2 linked regions of the Homo sapiens genome follow. The protein of the gene in region 1 interacts with the protein of each later gene in a biochemical or structural test. Each region holds a gene or a part of one and is shown in the gene's direction. Other genes may lie near its edges.

The links.
Region 2: the proteins of VDAC2 (region 1) and OTUD5 form a complex in vitro, tested with the Homo sapiens proteins (one study listed by BioGRID).

The regions. Positions count from the first base shown.
Region 1 is NC_000010.11:75,227,561-75,231,948, forward strand, and holds the end of VDAC2 (non-selective voltage-gated ion channel VDAC2), read left to right. Parts: intron 1-2,083; coding exon 2,084-2,141; intron 2,142-3,337; coding exon 3,338-3,429; 3' UTR 3,430-3,888; downstream 3,889-4,388. UniProt on the Homo sapiens protein: Non-selective voltage-gated ion channel that mediates the transport of anions and cations through the mitochondrion outer membrane and plasma membrane.
Region 2 is NC_000023.11:48,933,387-48,940,732, reverse strand, and holds part of OTUD5 (OTU domain-containing protein 5), read left to right. Parts: intron 1-4,381; exon of another isoform or gene 4,382-4,542; intron 4,543-5,714; coding exon 5,715-5,779; intron 5,780-5,865; coding exon 5,866-6,022; coding exon of another isoform or gene 6,023-6,037; intron 6,038-6,120; coding exon 6,121-6,269; intron 6,270-7,346. UniProt on the Homo sapiens protein: Deubiquitinating enzyme that functions as a negative regulator of the innate immune system. Has peptidase activity towards 'Lys-48'- and 'Lys-63'-linked polyubiquitin chains. Can also cleave 'Lys-11'-linked ubiquitin chains (in vitro).

The DNA.
Region 1 (4,388 bases):
CTGTTAAATAATAGGAATTTTTTTTTTTTTTTTTTTTTGGAGACAGAGTCTCACTTTGTTACCCTGGCTGGAGTGCAGTGGTGCGATCTCTGCTCTGCTCACTGCAACCTCTGCCACCCGGATTCAAGTGATTCTCCTGCCTTAGCACCCCGAGTAGCTGGGATTACAGGCGCCTGCCACCGTGCCTGGCTAATTTTTGTAGTTTTAGTAGAGACGGGGTTTCACCATCTTGGCCAGGCTGGTCTTGAACTCCTGACCTTGTGATCCTCCCAAAGTGCTGGGATTACAGGCATGAGCCACCCAGCCCGGCCAATAATGGGAATTTCTTTCTTTCTTTCTTTTTTTTTTTTTTGAGGCGGAGTCTCGCTCAGTAGCCCAGGCTGGAGTGCAGTGGCAAGATCTCCACTCACTGCAACCTCCGCCTCCCGGGTTCACGCCTTTCTCCTGCCTTAGCCTCCCGAGTAGCTGGGACTATAGGTGCCCACCACCACGCCCGGCTAATTTTTTGTATTTTTAGTAGAGACGGGGTTTCACCGTGTTAGCCAGGATGGTCTCGATTTCCTGACCTTGTGGTCCGCCTGCCTCGGCCTCCCAAAGTGCTGGGATTACAGGCGTGAGCCACTGCGCCTGGCCAATAATAGGAATGTCTATCCAGCTGTCTGAGGCTCTTATTTGTAGGGTACAAGATGGTCATTAGTGAGGTATTTTTCTTTCTTTTTTTTTTTTTGAGCTTTGTTGCCTAGGCTGTAGTTCACTGGTGCAATCACAGCTCACTGTGCCCTCAGCCACCTGGGCTTGAGATCCTTCCACTCACCCCCCACTTCCCTGGTAGTTGGGTAGGTGTGCACCATCATACCAAGCTAGGAAAATTTTGTACAGACAGACAGGGGTCTCACCGTGTTGCCCAGGCTGTTGAATTCCTGGGCTCAAGTGGTCCTCCCGCCTTGGCCTCCCAAAGTGCAGGGATTACTGGTGTCAGCCACTGCGCCAGGCCTGTTTTTTTCTTTAGATGGTCATTGGTAGCTCATGAATATTTGGCTGTAGTGCCAAGTGAATACAGGTGTTTTGGATGTGGTTTGTGTCTGTATAGTTACATCATTTCTTTCTCTGGATTGGGCTCTTTGGATGTTACACATTATAAGAGTATAGACATCGAATCATTTGGAGATCTGTTTTGGTCACATAGTCTGTTTGTTACCTTTATATTGTAGCCCTCAGAATGCTGAAAGCAAAGCAAAGTTGCATGTCTAGGCAACCTAGGCCCTGGAAATGAAGGCAGGTGTTCCTGGCCTCTGGTGTGTCTTCATAATGTTAGGGGTGGTAGAGAATGGAGCTAGAAAGAATCTACTCTTTACTATGTCTTACTCTTCAGGGTTCATTCCAGCCCTTGAAGTCGGTAACTAAGTCCTAAAATGTTGGGATTGTGCAAGGAAGGCAGGGGCCTGGATTGGTACATGATACCTCACTGGGACCTCCTCCCAAACGCAGTGGTTACATACAGCCAGAACTCAGCAGCACCGGCATTTATGAGAGGTGTAAGAATGTGAGGATAAAGGATTGTTTGATCTGATTCTTCAGAGGAATTACTTGTCGTTTGGAGATTTTTTTTTTTTTTTTAAACATTCATGGTTTTGATTCTTTAGGAAGAGTCCTGGAAGTAGTAATGTGTGTAACTAAGTCATGAATTTAAACTTTATACCCTGTGCTTTAAGGCTGCTGTGTGTCACCTCTAGTGAGCCTGACTTGTACCACATTTTGGTCTGGTTTGTTGTGCTAGACTAGAATTAACAAAGATGATTTTTATGAGAGTGCTTAGGCTTTTGTGCTGTATGGACAGTTTGGGGTCTTTGGATACATTCCAGTGGCTATCAAGAGTATTGTGTCCTACTGAGAATTTGATTTTTGAGTTGAATGGATACGAATTAAATAGTACCTGGTTTGTTTGGCTTAATACATAATATTGAATTTTATTGTCTCACGTGAATAAAACTGAACACTTCATGATTACATGATGGGGAAACATGTAGGGGCTTTGTCTCTATTGAAATATTTTTCTTACAGTTGTTTTTGTATTTTATTTTAGGCAAAAGTCAACAACTCTAGCTTAATTGGAGTAGGCTATACTCAGACTCTGAGGCCTGGTAAGTATTCTTGATAAAGTAGGATTGTTTTGATAGTATTAAAAAATTTAGTTTTCATTCTTCAGCTTACTTTTCAGACCTTTCAAGCACACAGAAGAGTTGAAAGAAGAGTACAATAAATACGTGTTTACCTTTTACCACAATTTTTTATTTCTTTTTCTTTGCTTTTTTTTTTTTTGCTGGGCCATTTGGTCATGACACTTCTCTTCAGAATAAGGCCCGTCTCTTCTTTTCTGCATAACTATAATACTATCACACCTAAGAAAGTTAGTGATTCCTTATTATTTAATACCCACTTCCTGTCAGTTTCCTCGCTTGTATCTGAAATGTTTTGTAGTAATTTTTATTTTGTTGATCAAAGTTCACTCATTGCTTTGGTTCTGCCTATAGTCTTGTTGACTTTATATAATATTTTGAAGCGTGCTGTGTCTAGAACAGCGCTTCTCCAACTTCAGAGTGCACATGACTCATCTTGGAATCTGCTTAAAGTACTGGAGACTTCCCCCTTCAGATAGGGATTTTCCTCCCCAAAGTTTATTTTGGTGATTTTGAAACCTAAAGAAAAGTTGGAAGAATGGTACAATGAACATCATATGTCCTTACCTTGCATTGACCAATTATTAACAATTTATTAACAATTATTAACATTTACTACATTTATTTTATGTCTGAAACTTCACATACTTTTAAAAAAATGTATGTTTTGCAGACATACAGACATGGCAGCCCCTAGCATGTGTATCCTAAGAGTAAGACATTTTTCTTTATAAGCACAATACCATTGTCGCATCTAAGAAAACTAACATTAATGTAATACCAAATACATATTCAGATTTACCCCCGTTCCCAAATGTGTCTTTATTGTAGGTTTTCCTTTCTAGGATCGAATTATGATTATGTCTTTAGTCTCTTTTCATCGGGATAGTATACTCAACATTATAGTATATTCTAGAACACTTTGAAGTTGTTATTAAAACATTTCTCTGTGACTTGGTGCCTTAGCTAGAATGGTAACCCAGTTCTTCTGGTGTCTCAGATACTTCCAAGCGCCCTCTGGTGGCCAGCACTAGTAGGTCAGCTGACAGGCTGAGGAAGTGACAGGCAGGCTCTGGGGATGACTGTGAAAGAAGGCCCAGACTGAGTGACGTGCCAGGTACATCACGGTTTTTTGTTTTTGTGTTTTTTTGTCTTAATAGGTGTGAAGCTTACACTCTCTGCTCTGGTAGATGGGAAGAGCATTAATGCTGGAGGCCACAAGGTTGGGCTCGCCCTGGAGTTGGAGGCTTAATCCAGCTGAAAGAAACCTTTGGGAATGGATATCAGAAGATTTGGCCTTAATATATTTCCATTGTGACCAGCAGCAGGCTTTTTTCCCCCAAGAAGATGATCAAAACAAAGGATGATCTCAACAAGAGCTGTATTTTAAGTATTTAGACAGTTCTTTGTTAGCTGGTTTCTAGTTGGTTATCTAGTTACCAATGCTGCAGTCCTGCAGTCACCTATACATTATTTAAATGTATTTAACTGTTAAATGCGCTACCCACCAATAATGAAATAGACCTTTATGAAAACTGTGCAATTGTGTGCATGTTTGTTTTTATGTTCCTTTAGAAAACATTGACTGTTACCATTGAATGAGATGGATCAGTGGATATTAAGATGAGGTTACAAATTTTGTTAAGTTCAGCCATTATTACTTTTGGTATCCCAGAACATGACAAATTATGAATAAAACAAGTATACATAATTAATGGCTCCAAGTATTTGCGGAGTTCCACGTTTGCCAGCTAGGATCAAATCCCCGTGGTAGCTAGCCAATACTTGATTTTTCCAGTGAGTATTTTGCTCTGTACCTAAATCTGTGCCACAGAATCTTCTGTGTCCCTAGATTCCACGAGCTTTTTAAGACTACAATAAGAGGATACATGCTTTTACACTTTTACATGCACAGTTTGTAAGTCTGTGCAGAATTGCCCTGCATCATTGAAAGGAAAAAGAGAAGGTGCTGAAAAGTTACACAAACACACCATACCCCTGTGAGCTACTGCTAGGAACATAAAGTAGGCCCTGGTTTGGTGAGATGGTGTTAAGCATACAGAAGAGGAGTAAGGTGTAGACAGTGAGGGTAACCTGAGGGACTGTGAGAGGTCATTACTCATTTCCTTCTAGGCAGACACACTGAAAGGTGGGTATAGGTAGGAGACCAGAGACAACCCCTTTAGGCTGCGTGGCATTGGCCTTCATCTG
Region 2 (7,346 bases), on another chromosome or scaffold:
CTCAGATAACCTCCTCCTGGAAACATGACTCTGCATCTCTCCCTTGCTCCCTCCCTCCATGTGGCTTTGACTCAGCAGAAACCTCTAACCCTGACCAGGGTCCTGGTGCTAGCTTCTGTGGGCAGAGTGAAGGCCACATGGTTGTTTCTACATGGGCCATGGGGGAGTGGCAAGGGCTGTGCATGTTACCACGATGAGGCCCAGAAACATTAGCTAGGCCCACTCTTCTGGGCCTTTTGGTCTTGGAACATCAGCACTAGGAGGGATGGATCTGAGATCAATTTTGATTGTTTTATAAATGGGGAAACTGAGGCCTCAAGAGAAAGCCAAGACCCTACCCTATCTAGGTCATACAACCAGTGTCAGAACATTGGTATTTGAGGTTGAACCAGGCCACAGAAAGAAGATTCCCACGGGCCATTTCCTGTACACCAGCTTCCTTCAGCCTCTCCCGTGTATCCTTCAGGTTTCTCATCCTTGCAGTGGGAATCCTTGAGCAGAGGAGCACACATCTCAGGAACCAGACTATCCAGTGGGATGAGTTCTGTCTCTCCCACTGAGGGTATGCTAGTTGGGGTAGTTGGGGCTACAGACCAGGTCACACCACAGCTGCTTGACAGGCAAGTGAGACCTTTGTCCTGGCTCATCTCCTCAGGAGATTGGTTCTCAGTGGGGCCAGGGTTCCCACTGGACCAGGAGGGTAGTGGGGAGCAGACCAGGTCCCTGTCTCCCTCTGCAGCTGTGTGTACACACGTTAGTGTGGTTTGTTTTTAGGTTCCCTGTAGACACCTAGCTTCCTTTTTTGCCCTTAGCGGAACTTGCTGTGGCTCTTCTGGGAGGCAGGCAGCTACCTGGGGAGTAGGCAGTTCTCAGATGTCTCTAAAGCAAATGGTAGGACCCTATAGGAAGATAATCCAGGCTCTCATGTCTTGCTTCTTAACATAAATCTGGGTACATTATTGGTTACATTACATTAGTTACATAAGGACTTCCCCCGGGCAACAGAGGAGAGAGGTTGAGGCTAGTCTGTTAGAGCTCTTGGTTATTTCCCCTGCCCTCCACCTACCCTGCCAGAGGCCAGGAAGGAGGTTGGTGGGGTAGGGGGTCCCTCAGTTTATAGAGCCTCACATCTTCAGTCTTTCCTGAAGTGGCAAGGGCATCTACTCATTGAATGTGATAGTTCTCTGTTGTGGGATTTGTTGGGTGAGCATTTGGCCTCAGGGAGCATCTTTGGCAGTCTCTGCTGTATGTGTATACACATGTGCATTTCTATACTGGTGTCTCTGTGTGTCCAGAAAAAGGAAAGAAGTGGGGTGTGTATGGGGAGGGTAAGGTTCATATTGGCCTCTGTGGCCCTAGGGAGAGATGCAGCCCCTGATATCTATAATCTCTGCCCTCTCCCATGCCTTTCCTGGGTTCTAGCTGATTCCTGCTTGTGCTGGTGTGGAAACTGAGGCACACAAGATCAGGTCCTGCCCCAGGGAGTAAGGTGACTAAGATGGTGGCTGGATTGGGGTGAAGGTGGTAATATCAGCTGGGGCCAGCAGTTACCCTTTGAGAGCCTGGCCTCCCCTTCACTCCCCCTAAATCTGTGATCCCAGGCAAGCTTTGCCACATTTCTGTGTCTCCTGGGTAAAGTAAGAGTGTTTTGGTAAGGATAGAATGAGTTGGAGTGTGAAAAGTCTTTGGTGTGGGACCAATTGTAGTATTGTACTGAGGATTTCTGAGCCCTGTTTGAGATGGGAACAGAGGTAGAATGGTGGGGGACCCCCTTCCAGCTGGCCTCTGGGAGGGGAGAACAGGTGCAGATTGCCCACAAGTGCAGCGTCAGCAAGAGGAGGAGTTTCAGTTTCTATCAAAACAAGTTCTCTGAATTCCCCTACCTCTGCAGGTCATCCCCCCAACCTCAGACCCCTCCACAGGGAAGTCAAGCCTGGCCCCCAGCCCTGTGTGCCAGCCTTCTGGGAAGAGGAGGGCTTTCTGGAGGACAGAGGTGGAGCTAGGAAAGTCAGAAAAACGAATTCTTTTTTTTTTTTTTGAGACAGAGTTTCGCTCTTGTTGCCTAGGCTGTAGTGCAGTGGTGTGATCTTGGCTCATTGCAACCTCCACCTCCCGGGTTCAAGCGATTTTTCTGCCTCAGCCTCCCAAATAGCTGGGATTACAGGCATCCACCACCCTGCCTGGCTAATTTTTTGTATTTTTAGTAGAGATAGGGTTTCACCATGTTGGCTCGGCTGGTCTTGAACTCCTGACCTCAGGTGATCCACCTGCGTCGGCCTCCCAAATTGCTGGGATTACAGGCGTGAGCCACCACACCTGGCCAAAAATGAATTCTTGTTGAGTACTTCCTATGTGTTTAGCTCTGTGCTTAGATGCTTTTCCTGCCTTATATTATTGGAGAAATCCTTCTATTCTCCCTTGTTGGGGTAGTACTATTGCTGTTTTCCTTGGTTTGGAGATGTATATTTTCTTCCACGTTAATGATTCCAAACTTAGGGTATACCTTATAATCAGTGTGGTGTGTTTCCCCCCTCAAAAGCTGTGATTAGGTACATGTTATACCATATCACCTATCAGTGCCATCATAGGATTGAGGAGAGAAGGTGGTATTTTACATTTTACAGATAAGTAAAGAAGTGTCATAACTCGTCCATACTTTAGGACCCTGTTTTATGAAGCCTGTATTGTTAATTCGATATTAATTTAACTGCTGAAGTTTTGTTAGAACTAACGGCCTAGAGGTAGACTTGTGGACCTTTGGTTTCGCTAAAGGTAGAGAGCCAGGAGAGGACATGCATCCTAGGTCTGCATTTGGGGCTTTCCTCTGGCTGAGGAATTGCAACAGAAATGAGGAAGGGCTTCATAAGTGGTTATGGCAACATTCTGGCTGACTCGTGGGTAACTAGCATATGAAGGAATCATTGTCGTCATGACAAATTGTGTTCCTGTTTCTTGACCACCTACTGTGCCTTAGGTGCTTGGCAAACCTCCTGTGTAGTTTTGACAACACCCAGCAGATGGAAGAGGAGTTACTGTCTCCACCTTATGCATGAGGACATTTCAGCTTAGAGAGGTTAAAGGCCTTATCCATTGCTACACAGCTAGGAGGCAGCAGAGCCTTTCTGCCAGGCAAAGGGGTCAGTGGCAGAGAAATGGGACCCTCAGGGGGTTTTCCCCCAGATCCCTTCCCTGTTCCACAGTCTCCTCTCTTTCCCCATTTTCCTGCATCTGGCATCTAGCTCTTGAAGATAGAACTCCCAGGCCTGGAAATGACCGTTGACCTTTCCATAGGAGATGGGCTTTCTCCAGCACCTCAGCCTATCTCTCTGAGCCTGGCCAGCCAACCCCTATTTAACCCCTTCATTCTCATCTTTGTTCCTGTTTACTGCAGCTGCCAACAGCACTGCCTCCCAGTACCCCAAGCTCAGTCTACAGAAATAGCTCCCCAAGTAGCTCACTGTGCGGGCTCTGTGGTCCTGGCTTCTAAGAAAGGCAGCAGCAGGGGGCCCCCAGCCTGTGCGCAGGACATGTGACTTGCTGGAAATGCCGCTGGGGAGGGCGGGGGAGAGTGTGGCCGCAGAACCCACATCCTTGTTTACATTGGTGAAGGGGCTACCCCCCTTCCCGCCTTCACAACCTCCACACCCCCTTACCCTTCAGGTCTCTTCACCTCCAAGAGGACTGGAGACAAACATGGGCCCTATTTTCTATCTCAGAGTAGCCTTTCTCACAGAACACTCCAGGGTAGGAAGGGGAAGGCAGGGAAGGTGTTCTTCTGACAGTTCTTCAGAGAGGTAGACTGACAGGGAAGAACTCAGGAGTGTTCCTGTGTGACCTGACCCTAGCCCCATGCCCCAGGGAGATCCCATCAGAGCAGTGGTCCTCTGGGGAAACAAAGGGAAATTCCCAAAACCAGTGGAAATCAGACTTGCATGATCTTCAGGCCCACTTTAATTTCACAGGGAGAAGAGCTCCCTGGCTTACCCAGCCTATCCATTTGCTCAGTAAACTTTTCCTGATTTCCTTTACTGTATCGGGCCCTGAGCTGGGGGTGGACTTTGGTGTGAACTGCCCTTTGCCTTCTGTGGGAGCCCAGTGTGGTCGGGCAGAAGTCTATGCACACCTTTGATAAATCTGGTGATAGAGGTGTCCTGGGTAGTGGGGAACTGTATTAAAGAACATGTTGGGCCAGGCGCGGTGGCTCACACCTGTAATCCAGGCACTTTGGGAGTCTGAGGCGAGAGGATCGCTTGAGCCCAGGAGGTCAAGGCTGCAGTGAACTATGATCGCGCCACTGCACTCCAGCCTGGGCGACAGAGCGAGACCTTGTCTCAAATAAATAAATAAATAAAGAACACATTGGTGTTTGAGAAGTAGGCAGCTGACGAGGATGGAAGGAGCGTCCTGAAGAGAAGGAACGGCATGTGTGAAGATCCTCAAGCGAAGCAGAGGGAGTGTGTTTCCTTCTCGCCTTAGTTTGACCAAATCTCACGACGCCTGGACTATTCGGGCCACAGGCTGCCCATCCTGAGTTAAGCTAAAGTTAGTTGCATGTGTGTCTTATCTCTTTTACTAGACTGTGTGCTCCCCGAAGGTAGGGGCAGGATTTTACTCACCTCTGTCACCTTCACAGTACCCCACATTCAGGCCTCCCTACGGAGGAAGGAATTCTGATTTACTCTGTGGCTACTCTGTCCCAAGCCCAGTGGTAGTTATTTTATACCCGTTATCTCATTTAATCCCCACAAAAGGCCTGCCATTTGGTTATCCCTTTTTTTTTTTTTTTTTTTTTTTGAGACAGAGTCTTACTCTGTCGCCCAGGCTGGAGTGCAGTGGCATGATCTCGGCTCACTGCAACCTCTGCCTCCTGGGTTCAAGCGATTCTCCTGCTTCAGCCTCCCAAGTAGCTGGGATTATAGGCGCCCGCCACCATGCCCGGCTAATTTTTGTATTTTTGGTAGAGACGGGGTTTTACCACGTTGGCCAGGCTGGTCTCGAACTCGTGACCTCAAGTGATCTGCCCACCTTGGCCTCCCAAAGTGCTGGGATAACAGGTGTGAGCCTCCACGCCTGGCCTGTTATCCCTCTTTTTCCCATTTTACAGATGAGGTATATGAGGCTCAGAACACTTGGGTCACTTGCCTCTGGTCACTCAACTCTCTAGTATCTGGCAGAACTGGGCTTGGAGCCCATTTTTTTTTCTTTCCTTTTTTTGTCTTTGTTCCCTTTTTTTTCAGCCTACAAAGGCCATGTTGACTTGTAGGAGTCAGGAAAACTGAATTCAGAGTTGACTCTGTCACAGACTGACTCTTTGTGACCTTGGACAAACCACAAACTCCCCCTGAACCTCAGTTTCCTCATGTGGAAAGCAAAGGGGGTGTGGGAATCAATAGCATTTGAGGCCAACCTGTGGAACTTAGAATGTTGTTGATTTCTCTGAGTGGCCACGTGTACCCTAGACAAAGTCATCTGCCCAAGAGGCCTGTGGATGTGTTCCTCTCACCTGCACTCTCTTGTTCTTCAAGTCTGGCCCTGCCTGCCATATTTTTCCATGACCCCGTTCTAGCCTACAAGGGCAAGAACTCTCCAGGCCTTGGGGTAGAAAAGGGAATTTCCCTGGTCCCCCAGTTCCTCCTCCCCAAAGGATGTTCTATGATTCAGAGCTCTTCTCTGGCATCTCTGACCCTAGCTGCTGCTTTCTTCTGCCCCCACAGCTGACCAGGTGTATGGAGACCAGGACATGCATGAGGTTGTGCGAAAGCATTGCATGGACTATCTGGTGAGAAAATGGAGGCCTTTGGGGAAGGGGCAGGGTGGGAGGATTTCTTCTCCACACAGACCTTAACCTTCCAATCTATTCTGCAGATGAAGAATGCCGACTACTTCTCCAACTATGTCACAGAGGACTTTACCACCTACATTAACAGGAAGCGGAAAAACAATTGCCATGGCAACCACATTGAGATGCAGGCCATGGCAGAGATGTACAACCGTCCTGTGGAGGTGTACCAGTACAGCACAGGTACTTCTGCAGTGGGTAGGTGAGGGAAAGATGGTGCCTCATTCGAGCCTGCCCAACCTGGCCTGCTGTGGATGCTCCCTCCTTCTCTTTCTCTGCAGAACCCATCAACACATTCCATGGGATACATCAAAACGAGGACGAACCCATTCGTGTTAGCTACCATCGGAATATCCACTATAATTCAGTGGTGAATCCTAACAAGGCCACCATTGGTGTGGGGCTGGGCCTGCCATCATTCAAACCAGGGGTGAGTGGGTCCCTGTGCCCAGAATGGCTGCTGGATATAGAGGTCAGAAACCTCTGTTGGAGTCTGTTTTGCCCCTAACTCACAAAAATATCCTGTCTCCTCTCTCCCCTGAGGTCTCACCCTTACAAAAAAAAAAAAAAAAATAGGGAGTTACTTAAGGTGATCTCTCAGGGCTTGTTCTTTGGTCTTGGTTTGCCTGTCTGAGTTGGCTTACCTATCTTTTGTGCCCGTTGAGGGCTGGCATTTTAGGATGTGGAGTCCTATTTTGGAGCAGTGAGCCAGGGCTTGCTCTGGGCATCTTGGCATGGATCTTTCTCCTGGGATCATAGTGGTTACAGACAGCCATGGTCACAGAGACATGGGGTACAGGCCTGGCCCCACCACTCACTGGCTGTGTGATCTAGGCAGATTCTGTAAGTATTCCAGGCTGGCAGCTTGGCTGATACAGAAAGCACCTCCCACTGGGCCTGGGGCCTAGTAGGTGTTCAGAAGGTGGCAGTGCATTTTCCCAGCACATACCGATAGATTCTCATTCATTTCTCTCTCTCTCTCTTACAGTCATTTGCTGAGGATTTTGGTATCTTCTATTCAGGTTTCACTTCTACAAACACAAAGTACTCCTGCTTCATTTTCGGAAACACATAGCCTAACACCAACACACCCTCCAACATAGGGTTCTTTTTTGTTTTGTTTTTAAATAAACTTAATTTTAGAGCAGGTTTAGATTTACAGAATTACTGCAAAGAGGCTGGGCACGGTGGCCCACACCTGTAATCCCAGCATTTTGGGAAGCCGAGGCTGGCAGATCACCTGAGGTCAGGGGTTCAAGACCAGCCTGGCTAACATGGTGAAACCCTGTCTCTACTAAAAATACAAAAATTAGCTGGGTGTGGCAGTGGGTGCCTGTAATCCCAACTACTCTTGGGAGGCTGAGGCAGGAGAATCACTTGAAACTGGGAGGCAGAGGTTGCAGTGAGCCAAGATTGTGCCACTGCACTCCAGCTTGGGCGACAGAATGAGACTCTGTCTCAAAAAAAAAAAAAAAAAGTTACAAATATATTACAGAGTTCCCATATG